4 linked regions of the Homo sapiens genome follow. The protein of the gene in region 1 interacts with the protein of each later gene in a biochemical or structural test. Each region holds a gene or a part of one and is shown in the gene's direction. Other genes may lie near its edges.

Region 1 (3,500 bases):
TGAGCCCATTAACATAGTACATTTGGAAATGTCTGAATGAATTATGGATATTGGCCCAGAATTGTTCTATTACAGGTGTCCTGGATGTCAGTCTCTTTCAAGTGATTCCTTTTGAAGAACACTTCAGAAGTGTTGTTGAAGACCTGGTATTCCTAGCCACATGTGCTGGTGCTTGCAACTTTTTCCTCCCCAGAGAGATCCCTTCCTATTGACGGGCTTCCTTACCAATGCATCAGCTGAGTGACAAATGTTACCAACTACTTAAACAGATATGTTTATTTCTCATTGGTAAATGTAGCTGTTGTTTTGTTTTTGTTTGCTTACTTTTAAAGCTGGGCACATTGCTGTCCATTTTAAAATTTGCCTTGTTAATACAGTGAGGAAGGGAGGGAGAATGGACATTGGGTAGGCAGTTGCAGCTTTTGCCACAGCTAGCTGTTTCTCCTTCTCAGTGCAGTAGATTCAACAGGATTTGTTTTTCTGTGCAGGTACAGTGCAGGTGCACCTGACTGATCTGTCATCCATGTTGGTTTCAGATTTTTCTAAAGAACTACTTTGGTCACATGTTTTCAAAATATTGAGAAGCTGCTTATTGCCTGTCAAGTAGGTCCAAACTCCAGCGCCTGGAATTTAAGGCTGTTTGTGATCTGGCCCAACCCATCTTCATAGCCTTGTCACACACTGTTTCCTTAGCCTTTGTCTCTCTAACCCACTGCCTTTTTCTGAAAATGATGATTTCCTGCCTCAGTGCTGTTCATGCCCTTCTCTGGGCCTGGAAAATCATCATCTTTTGTGTTTTCTTGGCAGCTGGAACAAAATTGCCGCTTCTCTCATAAAATAACGAATTCCTGGAGCATTAATTTAGCCCCCGCTGTGTAGTAGGGAATTAGGGATTCAGAGCTTTTTCTGTTTTCCCAAAGCATTTTGAATTCTTTTTTGGTAATTACCAATTTCTGTTTTGTTTTATAGTTTTTTGTATATATGTCTAAGCTTTTCTGCCAAAGTGTAATCTCTGGAAGTAAAGGAATGTCTTAATCAAATTTGTTAAATATCCAAAGAAAAACAAGCTGCACAGTAGGCTTTATTTCTCCTTTTATTTGTTGTTAGTGAATCGAAAAGTTCAGGGCTAGCTCTGTTTAGTGTCTTTGACGTTGTTTGAATAAATTCACAAAACTTTGAGTAAAACAGGATCATTTTCTTTGGTTTAGCTTGACTCTACAGTGTATTACAGACTGCTGGCAGAGACCCAACATCATGAAACATTTAGGAGAAATTCAGATGATATTTAGGCATCCTTGTTTAGTTTCCTCCTAGGCCACTGTTTTGGAAACTCGGTTAGTCATAACCACCTTCTCTTAATTACCTACTTCCACACAAATACCTTAAGGATATTGTTTTATATAATCTTACCATCACAGCCACACCACGAAGTAGGATCTTTATATCTATTTTACAGATAAGGAAACCAAGCTCAAGAGGTTAAGAACTCACCAAGTCATACAATTAGTGACAGCTGGGATTCATACCGAAGTGCCCTGTAGAGCCCTGTGTCTCCTCACTTCATGGCACTGGTCAAGAAGAGGTCACAGCTCGCTAATTGTTTTTCCAAGTCTCAAGGCTTTTTCTTGGCATGTCCAGACAACCTATCCAGTTTTACTCCCTCCTACCCTTACGCTTATATCATCTTATTGCCAACCATACCACAGTCCTTCTTTCTGAACTTGATTTTTGTTACTCTGCTAGGAGTAGCCTTTCCTTTTTTAAGGGGGTAGGAGTTCCCAAGTCTTACAACTCAAGTCCCAGCTTAAACTCCTCTGTCTTGAAGATGACTTCCTTGGCTGCTTCAACACCTATTAGGCTTTCTTTTCTTGACCTCCCGGAGAATGCATTGGGTAAGATTCAGTTCTCTACCCAAATTTAATGTGTCTGTATTTGTGTGCAACACACAAACTTCATTATTTTTATTTGAACTCTTGGCTGTGCTTGCATATGTGAAAGTGATATTTACAAATTTTGGAACACATCTTTCAATACAATTTGTGTCCATTATATACACTGTACTATGCTATAGGGCATGGAGTATACAGCTGTAATAGAGTGAAGGACACATTGTCTAATATTGTAGCTTTGTGTGTACAAGTCCCATAAGAGACTGTTTAAAAAAGTCTTTTAGAAATTTCACTGGGCATGGTGGCTCACACCTGTAATCTCAGCACTTTGGGAGGCTGAGGTGAGAGGATCGCTTGAGCCCAGGAGTTCAAGATGAGCCTGGGCAACATAGTGGTACCTCATCTCTACAAAAAATTTTAAAATTAGCTGGGCATGGTGGCACGTGCCCGTAGTCCTGTGGCAGGCTAGGTCTCACTAATGCAGGCCTCCATAACAACTGTTTCAATACTGACTGACTGGTTAAGTGAAATAGTAAAAGCTAAACAAGTCAGTGCCCTTATCAAAGGCTGGAGTGTAACAGAAACCTACCAAGAGTTTTGCCTAGGCCTTTCCTGGGCCTTAAAGCATGAGAAAATAACAAAAGAATTCTTAACAGGACCCTTTTAGGATTAAACAAATTTTATTGTGGGTCTGAAAAAACTCCCCAAACCTCTGTGATTTAGTAGGAGACAAGGGTAATCACCTCAGCACCTGGACCCATTTAGATGAAGTAAATCTACTGAGGATCCAGAAGAAGGTCTCCAGCACTCAGACCTTAGTTATAGATTAAAAGAAGTTAATCACTTACGTCTTCAGGTGAATGCACACTTACCTGTAGACATATAGCTTAGAAGGTATATAAGCTCTGGAAAACTGCAATTTTGAGTTGGTCTGGTGATAATTTCCAGGCCTTCTCCCTGTAACTGGTTGCAGAAATAAAAACTCTCTTCCTCCCCTGTTCATCTGCATCTCGTTATTGGGCCACGAGAAATAGCAGCCCAACCCTCAGTTTGGTCCAGGAAGAGTCCCAGCTACTCAGGAGGCTGAGGTGGGAGGATCACTTGAGCCTGGGAGGTTGAGTCTTGCCACTGCACTCCAGCCTGGGCAACACAGCAAGACTCTTTCTTTCTCTGTCTTTCTCTCCCTCTCTCTTTTCTCTCTTCTCTCTTTCCCTGTCTCTCTCAAAAAAAGTAAAAAGAAATTTAAAGGAGGAAGTGGTAATTTGTTAGTAGTTATTATAGATTAGTTGTTACTTATTGAAGACATTAGGACCAGTCAAATATTATTGGATTCTTAGCAGGTAGAGGTGTATTGGTCATCGTAGGGTTCAACCAGAGGCCTGGCTTATTTGGAATGTTGTAGGGAAAATTCAAGAATCAGGGAGAACAGTGCTCTCAAAACATGGGCTGCAGACTTCTAATGGCATGGGGTTCATGCTAAAAATGCTGATTGCTCAGCCTCATCCCATACTTCTTGAGGGATGTATGTCATGAAATCTATGCTTTTTAATTTTTTATTATGGAGGATTTCAAACATATACAAAAATACAGAGAATAATATGTCTCTGTGTG
Region 2 (3,500 bases), on another chromosome or scaffold:
GTAATTCAATCTTTTGATCTTTTGTCTCAGTTCTCCCATGAGAGAATAATGTTCAATGGTAAAGGTGATGTTTACTCATGTTTAGATAACAGCGAGAATCTTGGAGGCCCATCAGAATGTAGCTCAGATGAGTCTAATTGAAGCCAAGATGAGATTTATTCAAGCTTGGCAGTCACTACCTGAATTTGGCATCACTCACTTCATTGCAAGGTCAGTGGTTCTAAGCATCTATGTGTAAACCTTAATCTGCATTTTTGCTTAATCTACCTCATGTAATTAGATATTAAACATCTAAAGCATACCTATGTAGACCCATTAACTCATATTACAATAGAATTCAAAGACTGTTAGAATGTATTTTGTAAGCTTTTAATTTCTACATTAAAAATTCAAGATAATTGTGTTTGTTTTACTACTAAGAGAATAGCACTCTTGGCCAGGCACGGTGGCTCACGCCTGTAATCGCAGCACTGTGGGAGGCCGAGGTGGGTGGATCACGAGGTCAGGAGATAGAGACCATCCTGGCTAACACGGTGAAACCCTGTCTCTACTAAAAATACAAAAAATTAGTGGGGCATGGTGGTGGGCGCCTGTAGTCCCAGCTACTCGGGAGGCTGAGGCAGGAGAATGGCGTGAACCCAGGAGGCGGAGCTTGCAGTGAGCTGAGATCGCGCCACTGCACTCCAGCCTGGGCAACAGAGCAAGACTCCGTCTCAAAAAAAAAAAAAAAGAATAGTACTCTTTTAGGGTTAGAGAGAACACTTATCTTGAAGAAAAGCAGTCCAACATGTTCCCCCACAACATGTTTTTAACCGTTCTTTTCTTAAATGTTATAGGTTCCAAGGGGGCAAAAAAGAAGAACTTATTGGAATTGCATACAACAGACTGATTCGGATGGATGCCAGCACTGGAGATGCAATTAAAACATGGCGTTTCAGCAACATGAAACAGTGGAATGTCAACTGGGAAATCAAAATGGTAAACTCATAACAATGTTACTTGAATATAGTCCTTCTCTGATACAAATTAGTACATTAAGAATAAAAAGGCCTATAAATTCTGATGATTATTTGTACCACCACCTCTTAAAGTACAGACAGACCATGGTTGACTATTCATTTCTCACTTAAATTTGCCTATTTCATAATTAGCCCAGTTACTAAAATTCTAAGTGCATAATTTGCTTAGAATGTTGCCTTTTTTGTCTTTCTGTAATGGATAAAGCCGATCTACTCTGAAATAGCAGCTACTGTTTGTTGAATGCCTACCCTGTGCCAGACATGATACTTAGAGGCTTACATTAGTACCCTGTCTCTAAACCTCATCACAGCCTTTTAAGGCAGTTGGACAAATGAAGACACTGCAATAGAGAGACCTGAGGGCCATCATTGTCTATGACCACGCACAAAGTAACTACAGAATCATTTCAAACTCAGATGCTTTAGGCTTAAAAACCTGGCACATTTACCACTGTACATCATGTTGCCCCCAGTCTTGGAGTATACGAGTATCATTTAAAATGAACCATCTTTTACTAATAAGTCATTTGGTTTAGCATCATATTGGATTTATTGTATCAATTCCTATTACTTCAAAGAATCTTATATTTCTGAAATACTCAAACGTGATACCTAAAATTTAAGTATCTGAAGCGAACGTTAAAACACAGGAAGTAGGCTTTCCTGCACGACTTGAAGAGAGGCATTCTCATTAATTGAATCAATCACCAGAGACCATTTGAGAACTGAACGACCTAAAACCCTTGCATTCCTAGTCTTCCTTTTCAGAACATGAAAACTTAAAGTGTAGGGGAAGGGCAATAAACTTAGCTTCTTCTTTGGGACTTAAAGGCATTATTCGTTTAGGTTTTAGACAGACTGATCATTTGAGGATCAACAAGTGTTTTGTGATATGACAGACTTTAAGTAGCACAGTAGTTTTGTGTGGACCCAGCCACCTAGCATTTGGGACAGCACTGATGGCTCTTGTCTTTGTTCCAGGTCACCGTAGAGTTTGCAGATGAAGTACGATTGTCCTTCATTTGTACTGAAGTAGATTGCAAAGTGGTTCATGAATTCATTGGTGGCTACATATTTCTCTCAACACGTGCAAAAGACCAAAACGAGAGTTTAGATGAAGAGATGTTCTACAAACTTACCAGTGGTTGGGTGTGAATAGGAATACTGTTTAATGAAACTCCACGGCCATAACAATATTTAACTTTAAAAGCTGTTTGTTATATGCTGCTTAATAAAGTAAGCTTGAAATTTATCATTTTATCATGAAAACTTCTTTGCCTTACCAGACCAGTTAATATGTGCACTAAACAAGCACGACTATTAATCTATCATGTTATGATATAATAAACTTGAATTTGTCACACATTCCTTAGGGCCATGAATTGAAAACTGAAATAGTGGGCAAATCAGGAACAAACCATCACTGATTTACTGATTTAAGCTAGCCAAACTGTAAGAAACAAGCCATCTATTTTAAAGCTATCCAGGGCTTAACCTATATGAACTCTATTTATCATGTCTAATGCATGTGATTTAATGTATGTTTAATTTGATATCATGTTTTAAAATATCCTACTTCTGGTAGCCATTTAATTCCTCCCCCTACCCCCAAATAAATCAGGCATGCAGGAGGCCTGATATTTAGTAATGTCATTGTGTTTGACCTTGAAGGAAAATGCTATTAGTCCGTCGTGCTTGATTTGTTTTTGTCCTTGAATAAGCATGTTATGTATATTGTCTCGTGTTTTTATTTTTACACCATATTGTATTACACTTTTAGTATTCACCAGCATAATCACTGTCTGCCTAAAATATGCAACTCTTTGCATTACAATATGAAGTAAAGTTCTATGAAGTATGCATTTTGTGTAACTAATGTAAAAACACAAATTTTATAAAATTGTACAGTTTTTTAAAAACTACTCACAACTAGCAGATGGCTTAAATGTAGCAATCTCTGCGTTAATTAAATGCCTTTAAGAGATATAATTAACGTGCAGTTTTAATATCTACTAAATTAAGAATGACTTCATTATGATCATGATTTGCCACAATGTCCTTAACTCTAATGCCTGGACTGGCCATGTTCTAGTCTGTTGCGCTGTTACAATCTGTATTGGTGCTAGTCAGAAAATTCCTAGCTCACATAGCCCAAAAGGGTGCGAGGGAGAGGTGGATTACCAGTATTGTTCAATAATCCATGGTTCAAAGACTGTATAAATGCATTTTATTTTAAATAAAAGCAAAACTTTTATTTAATATTTATTTTTGTACTTGTTTTTAATGTTTACATAGTATTAATTTAGTAGAAATGAACTTCTGCCTTTTGGAATTGCTTTGCCTGCATGTTATTTTGTGAGAACAACTGGTTAGTATTCCACAGCGTTGCCAGATAGAGATACTTTATCTCAAAGATAGTCTTTCACCTCAATTGAAAAGCCCTCATTTTCTTAATACTTAAAAATGAATGTGTAATATCTA
Region 3 (3,500 bases), on another chromosome or scaffold:
GGGAGGCGGAGCTTGCAGTGAGCCGAGATCACGCCACTGCACTCCAGCCTGGGTGACAGAGCGAGACTCCATCTCAAAAAAAAAAAAAAAAAAAAAAGGCGGGTGCCACCATGCCCAGCTAATTTTTGTACTCTACAAGGATTTTGATTCACGTTTGAAGTTCTCTTCTGCGCCCTACCTGGCCTTTATTTCCTCCAAGCTGTTTTATTCTTGTTGTCTTGGTCTCTATGGTTCACTCTTGAAGCTTTCCTTAAATGTGGGTAGTCCATGCCTGTCCATTCATATTTAAAAGTGAAGCTCTAAGAAACCAATTGGAGACCCTGAGTGTGTGAGTAGGGCTTGGCATCTTGGTGGCCCCCTGGAGGCGATGGGGCCGGGCTGCCACTCTTTGTCGGGCATTTCTCTGGTGGCTCAGCCTCTCAGTGGCAACCCCACTGATCTTTCAACTGGAGATAGAAGGCTTCCTGCCAATGTCTTGGGTGACAAGTGGGAAAGGGTGTGGGTGTGTCACTCATCTGAATGCCAGCTTTCTTTAAATTTGTGTTTTTGCCGGGCACGGTGGCTCACGCCTGTAATCCCAGCACTTTGGGAGGCCAAGGCAGGTGGATCACCTGAGGTCAGGAATTTGAGACCAGCCTGATCAACATGGAGAAAGCCTGTATCTACTAAAAATACAAAAGTAGCTGGGCGTGGTGGTGCATGCCTGTAATCCCAGCTACTCAGGAGGCTGAGGCAGGAGAATCGCTTGAACCCGGGAGGCGGAGGTTGCGGTGAGCCAAGATCGTGCCATTGTACTCCAGCCTGGGCAACAAGAGCAAAACTCCATCTTAAAAAAAAAAAATTGTCTGTTTTCACCCTAGTGCAACCCCCACCCCGTCCAGCTGTGTCTGGGGTACCAAATGCAGGGGTGCATCTGGCTCAGCATCTCCAGAGAGTGAGTCCCAGCTTCTGCCAGGTGTCTCCTTGCCATCACTTGGCTGCATGGAGCTGGGGAGGGACCTGCTTTTTTTCTTGGACTTTATCCAGAGTCCTCTCTTCAGCTCACCCTCGCATCTCATCCAGAGGATCCCCATCAGAGCCTGCCAGGGGTCCGCCATGCAAACTGGATGCCTCTGTTGAGATCTCTGTTCTTTTTGCTGATTGCTTTCCGCCTATTTTCAAGTCTCATTGGTGGATTTACCAGACAGGAGAGGGACAAGGCGTGAGGCCCTAGCGCTCTCTGCATAACCCAGTTCCCATCTACAGTTTGCTCTCCATCTTCCAAATTATTTCCTTTTTCCTTTTTTTTTTTTTTTTTTTTTGTGACGGAGTCTCGCTCTGTCGCCCAGGCTGGAGTGCAGTGGCACGATCTCGGCTCACTGCAAGCTCCGCCTCCCGGGTTCACGCCGTTCTCCTGCCTCAGCGTCCTGAGTAGCTGGGATTACAGGCGCCCGCCACCACGCCTGGCTAATTTTTTTGTATTATTAGTAGAGACAGGGTTTCACTGTGTTAGCCAGGATGGTCTTGATCTCCTGACCTCGTGATCCACCGACCTCGGCCTCCCAAAGTGCTGGGATTACAGGCGTGAGCCACTGCGCCTGGCCTTCTTTTTCTTTCTTTTGGAGACAAGGTCTCACTCTATCCCCCAAGCTGGAGTGCAATGGTGCAATTACAGCTCACTGCACCCTCAACCTCATGGGTTCAGGTGATTCTCCCACCTCAGCATCCTGAGTACCTGGGACTACAGGCACGCACCACCTCATGTGGCTAATTTTTTGTATTTTTAGTAGAGATAGGGTTTCACCATGTTGCCCAAGCTGGTCTGAAACTCCTGGGCTCAAGCTATCTGCCTGCCTTGGCCTCCCAAAGTGCTGGGATTACAGGCGCAAGCCACCGCCCCGGCCTGTCCTTTGTCCTTTTGGGTTTATCTTCCTAAACCTTTGCTATCAATTTTGGGTGAGTTTCAGCGGGATTGTTGGTCTTCTGTGGGTAACTGGGATCCCCTCTTGGAGTCTCTGCCTTCCCAGTTCCTTTTCTCTGGAATCCTCTTCCTTCACGCTTCCCTTGAGTGGCCCACTGTCATCCTTCCTATCTCTACTCAGCTTGTCACCTCCTCAGGGAAGCCTTCCCTGACTGCTTCCCCATGTTCCATTCTGTCATCTCCATTGAACTTGGGGGGGCCTTAGACTGAGGGCTCATGTGAGCTTCCCTGTGGAAACTGTTTCCTTGATAGTGTTTATTGCAGCCTTGGATTATTTGACTTATTGATTGGTTTACTCGGTCTCTCCTGCACCCAGGGCAGCATGCCAGCACACAGTAAACATCAGCACAACCAAGCCAAGGTTTAGACGTGCAGGCCTGGGCAGCAGGGGGCTAGCAGGCTATTAAGGATGGGGTTGAGGTCTGTGGCCCATGTCTGGCCACTGAATGAATCTGCCTCAGCAAGGAGGGCAGGGCAGAGGGCCAAGGCTGGCAGGGGCTCAGTGCAGGGCGTCCAGGGCAGCTGGCATCTGACCAGCCCAGCCTCCAGCCTCCTCTCCCCCCGCTCCAGACAGACCCCGTGCGGCTGACACAGCTGTATGAGCAGGCCCGGTGGGACCTGCTGCTGGAGGAGATTGACTGCACCGAGGAGGAGATGATGGTGTTTGCCGCCCTGCAGGTACCAGGCGGGCCTGGGGGCACCAGGGCAGGTGGGAGGTGAGCCAGTCCCAGGGCAGGAAGGGCCTTCCTGAGTGGGGGCTACCTCCAGGGAAGCCCGGCCTGGGGGTACTGCTAGGGGACCAGGCTGCTGGACTCAGCCCTCCCTGGCTTCATGACCACCTAGTACCACATCAACAAGCTGTCCCAGAGCGGGGAGGTGGGGGAGCCGGCTGGCACAGACCCAGGGCTGGACGACCTGGATGTGGCCCTGAGCAACCTGGAGGTGAAGCTGGAGGGGTCGGCGCCCACAGATGTGCTGGTGAGGAGGGGCTCAGGGCAGGGGCTGGGCAGGGAGAACTGTGAGGTACCGGGTGCCCCTCTGACTCTGGTCCTCCCATAGGACAGCCTCACCACCATCCCAGAGCTCAAGGACCATCTCCGAATCTTTCGGTGAGTTGGGGGCCAGAGTAGGCAGCCCTGCTGGAGGGGTTGGTCTGCATATGGAGGGAGGGGGTGAGGCGGCCTTTCACAAACCCCAGCATCCCACGAAGGCCCCGGAAGCTGACCCTGAAGGGCTACCGCCAACACTGGGTGGTGTTCAAGGAGACCACACTGTCCTACTACAAGAGCCAGGACGAGGCCCCTGGGGACCCCATTCAGCAGCTCAACCTCAAGGGTAAGTGCACAGGGCCAGGGGCTGGGTGGGGGGATCCCCACTTGTGGGCTAGGCAGGTGAATGCTCTCACCGGCCCTGTTTCCTCCTGGAGACCGGGGAAGATGCCCTCTGTCCTGAGGTGACGGTGTGGGCTAGGATGCACTCCAGGACCTCAGGCGGCTCTTCCCCTCCCGACCTCCTAGACCACCCCTTCTCTCCCTCCAGG
Region 4 (3,500 bases), on another chromosome or scaffold:
GCAGTTTGGTTGAATGCTTGCTTGCTGGCACTGGGAGTGTGTTGCTGGATTACTAGGGCAGGCATCAAATTTAGGTTCAAGGGGGCCAGGAACAGAGTAGGTGGAGGTGCTTATTGGTCGGGAAGCCAGGGAACATGGAAGCTCACTTCTTGGTCCCCCATGCTCTTTTACCCTCAGCTTGTGTCTCCCCGGCCAATGAGGAAACTGAAGGCCCCATATCATTGGTATATGCCTCTGCAAAGCCATGAAAAACTCATAAGAAACCTACAGAGATGGATGTCCAGATAAATTCCAGTGCACTCATCCCTCGGTATCCATGGCGGATTAGTTCCAGGACCTCTGGGGACACCAGAATCCACAAATGCTGAAGTCCCTTATATAAAATGGCATAGTATTTGCATATAACTGATGTAATCTTCCCATATATCTTAAATCATCTCTAGATTACTTACAATACTTAGTACAATGTAAATGCTAACTAAATAGTAGCATTATAATGTTTAGGGAATAATAACCAGAAAAAAAAGTCTGTATATGTTCAGTACAGATGCAGTTTTTTCCTGAATATTTTTGGTACAAGGTTGGTTGAATCCATGGATGCAGAACCCACAGATCCAGAGGGCTGACTGTAGTTGTATACAGGTGTTATATCAGGAGAGGCAACATTGGCTCTTCCACCTTGTTCTCTTCCCTCCTAGCAGAGTTGTAATCCAGACCACTTCTTTCCAGATGATTAGGGGTGAGGGGCTGAGCTGCTGGATATCTGATATCTGGGAGTGGCATGGTCAAGGTCACATTGCCTGACTCAGCAGGGAAATGTGTTAGGAACTTTCATCCTTCATTCTAGCCAACTGCCATGAGTACCTAACATTTTGTATAAATTAAGTGAATATTATTTTAGTAGAAATTTATTTCTGATTATGAGACAAAGGAAGCCACTCTTCTGACAAGAGGGGAGTGGTTTCCATTGGGGAAGAGTACCCCAGAGAGCTCAGGGACTTTGTTTGTTTGTGTCTTTTTGTTTGTTTGATTTTGTTTTGTTTTTTTGAGACGGAGTCTCACTCTGTTGCCCAGGCTAGAGTGTAGTGGCGTGATCTCGGCTCACTGCAACCTCCGCCCTCTGGGTTCAAGTGATTCTCCTGCCTCAGCCTCCCAAGTAGCTGGGATTACAGGCGCCTGCCACCGTGCCTGGCTTATTTTTTGTATTTTTAGTAGAGACGGGGTTTCACCATCTTGGCCAGGCTGGTCTTGAACTCCTGACCTCGTGAGTCACCCTCCTCGGCCTCCCGAAGTGCTGGGATTACAGGCATGAATCACTGTGCCTGGCCTTTTGCATTTTTGGAGACGAAGTCTTGCTCTGTTGCCCAGGCTAGAGTGCAGTGGGGCGATCTTGGCTCACTGCAACCTCTGCCTCCCCAGTTCAAGTGATTCTCTGTCTCAGCCTCCAAATAGCTGGAATTATAGGCATGCATCACCATACCTGGCTAATTTTTTTATTTTTAGTAGAGGTGGGGTTTCGCCATGTTGGCTAGGCTGGTCTTGAACTCCTGACCTCAAGTGATCCGCCCGTCTCGGCCTCCCAAAGTGCTGGGATTATAAGCGTCAGCCTCTCGCTGTGCCTGGCCGGGACTTTGACCTGGAAGAAGGCTGAGTGACCAGCATTGCCTCCCTTCACATTTTATCCACCTGTGTTTAGACAGGTCAAGTGGCTTTCTCCAGGCAGCTGATTAAAAGGTGGCAAGACATGGACCCAGAACCCAGGGCCAGGCCTATTTCATTATCTGTGCTATTTAGGATTTGGCAGTTTTCCATCTTTGAAAGCCAGATGAAGTTGATATTTAAGAGAGGTGAAGTAGGCAGCCATTTGGCGCCAATTTATTTCAGCATCTGCATGGAGAAAATGGTTAGGGATAAATAGTAGACCCTTCATGGAAGGTTTTCATTTGAAGCCCAGCCAAAGGCAACAGGGTCTGCCCTTTGAGCTCAGAACTTTCGCAGGCCTTAACGACACACTGGGACCTTCTTTCCTTTTCCAAATGGCTTCAGCCTTGCAGTTTGGAATGATGTCAACATGTGGCGTAGTTTTATTCAAGTCCCAAGTTAATGGTTTACCTTTTTAGAAAACTCCAAAAACACTTTCATTGTTATTTAACTTTTGAGTTATGTAATGTCTAAGAGTCTTGTCTCTGACCCGTGCACCTACCTGCCACTGACCAACAGTTTCTCATTTCCTTACGCAACAACTAGTCTGGCTAGCTTAGAGTTGGTGTGTGATTGTTTGAGACTTTATGTGGAAGATAATATTTAATTGTTTTGTTCTGGTTTGTTGGGGTAAATTATACAAATGGAATGCATCCTTTCTCGGCCTTGAAAGAGGTTATATGACAGTACAATTATAATAAATTCAGTGTATGACTTTGGGTACATTCTATTATAAACGAATTTTTTTAAAGGTGCAGTTAGAAGAAGGTGGAAGAAAAAAGAAGTTGACACTCCGATTTTCCACATCATCTAACTAAAATGGATTTAAACTAACTTTCTCTAACTATTAAATCTTTCTTAGGTAAGTACAGTTGTATCCCAGCTCTAGAGTTAATGTGCTGGGTGGGTTTTTACAAATAAAAAATCTAAAACCTAAAATAGTTGTGTTTTATCTTCTGTCCCAATCCAAAACAAAACAAAACAATCATGTGATAGTAACTAATCTCTGGAGATACCTGACAAGCGTGGTCCAATAGTGACGCGGGTTTGTCACTTTGGTCTTTAGGTGACATTGACAGCTGGTGTGGCATATGGATCACACTGTGGTCATTGAAGTATAATGTTGCTTACTTCTGAGAAGTGATCATGGGGCCTTTTTTTTGAGACGGAATTTCGCTCTTGTTGCCCTGGCTGGAATGCAATGGCGCTATCTCGGCTCACTGCAACCTCCGCCTCCTGGGTTCAAGCGATTCTCCTGCCTCAGCCTCCCAAGTAGCTGGGATTACAGGCATGCACCACCACGCCTGGCTAATTTTGTATTTTTAGAGGATTTCTCCATGTTAGTCTGGCTGGTCTTGAACTCCTGACCTCAGGTGATCTGCTCGCCTCAGCCTCCCAAAGTGTTGGGATTACAGGCATGAGCCACCGCATCTGGTGTTCACGGGGCTTTTACCTTATGTACTACCTTTCGATGTTTCAGTTGTGAGCTTGAAAAATTTTATTCAGTAACCTAACATATAATTAGAGATGCCAGAGTGGTGGGGAGGGGAGGGAAGGAGGTTGGGAGAATGTTGTTGATTTTTTTTTTCCCTTTATAAACACATACAACTTTGGACGAAGAACATAATGTTTGAGCAAATGAATGCTTGTAAACTGCCGATCTCTGAAGTGTGAAAAGTTTATATTGATGGCACTTATATTCATAAGCCTGATGGGTTTTGGCTGGGAAATTTGGCTCGAGGTACGGACTTCTTTTGGGACACATTTTATTTTTCTGTCAAAACTGCCTGATTATTCTT

What was found.
Region 2: the proteins of LIMS1 (region 1) and FERMT2 form a complex in vitro, tested with the Homo sapiens proteins (one study listed by BioGRID).
Region 3: the proteins of LIMS1 (region 1) and FERMT3 form a complex in vitro, tested with the Homo sapiens proteins (one study listed by BioGRID).
Region 4: the proteins of LIMS1 (region 1) and DAPK1 form a complex in vitro, tested with the Homo sapiens proteins (one large-scale study listed by BioGRID and IntAct).

Annotation. Positions count from the first base shown.
Region 1 is NC_000002.12:108,540,970-108,544,469, forward strand, and holds part of LIMS1 (LIM and senescent cell antigen-like-containing domain protein 1), read left to right. Parts: intron 1-3,500. UniProt on the Homo sapiens protein: Within the IPP (ILK-PINCH-PARVIN) complex, binds to F-actin, promoting F-actin bundling, a process required to generate force for actin cytoskeleton reorganization and subsequent dynamic cell adhesion events such as cell spreading and migration.
Region 2 is NC_000014.9:52,857,051-52,860,550, reverse strand, and holds the end of FERMT2 (fermitin family homolog 2), read left to right. Parts: intron 1-85; coding exon 86-210; intron 211-836; coding exon 837-978; coding exon of another isoform or gene 979-990; exon of another isoform or gene 991-1,245; intron 1,246-2,000; coding exon 2,001-2,174; 3' UTR 2,175-3,278; downstream 3,279-3,500. UniProt on the Homo sapiens protein: Scaffolding protein that enhances integrin activation mediated by TLN1 and/or TLN2, but activates integrins only weakly by itself. Binds to membranes enriched in phosphoinositides.
Region 3 is NC_000011.10:64,216,721-64,220,220, forward strand, and holds part of FERMT3 (fermitin family homolog 3 short isoform), read left to right. Parts: intron 1-2,530; coding exon 2,531-2,638; intron 2,639-2,803; coding exon 2,804-2,938; intron 2,939-3,019; coding exon 3,020-3,069; intron 3,070-3,158; coding exon of another isoform or gene 3,159-3,170; coding exon 3,171-3,295; intron 3,296-3,499; coding exon 3,500-3,500. UniProt on the Homo sapiens protein: Plays a central role in cell adhesion in hematopoietic cells. Acts by activating the integrin beta-1-3 (ITGB1, ITGB2 and ITGB3). Required for integrin-mediated platelet adhesion and leukocyte adhesion to endothelial cells.
Region 4 is NC_000009.12:87,504,367-87,507,866, forward strand, and holds part of DAPK1 (death-associated protein kinase 1), read left to right. Parts: intron 1-3,500. UniProt on the Homo sapiens protein: Calcium/calmodulin-dependent serine/threonine kinase involved in multiple cellular signaling pathways that trigger cell survival, apoptosis, and autophagy.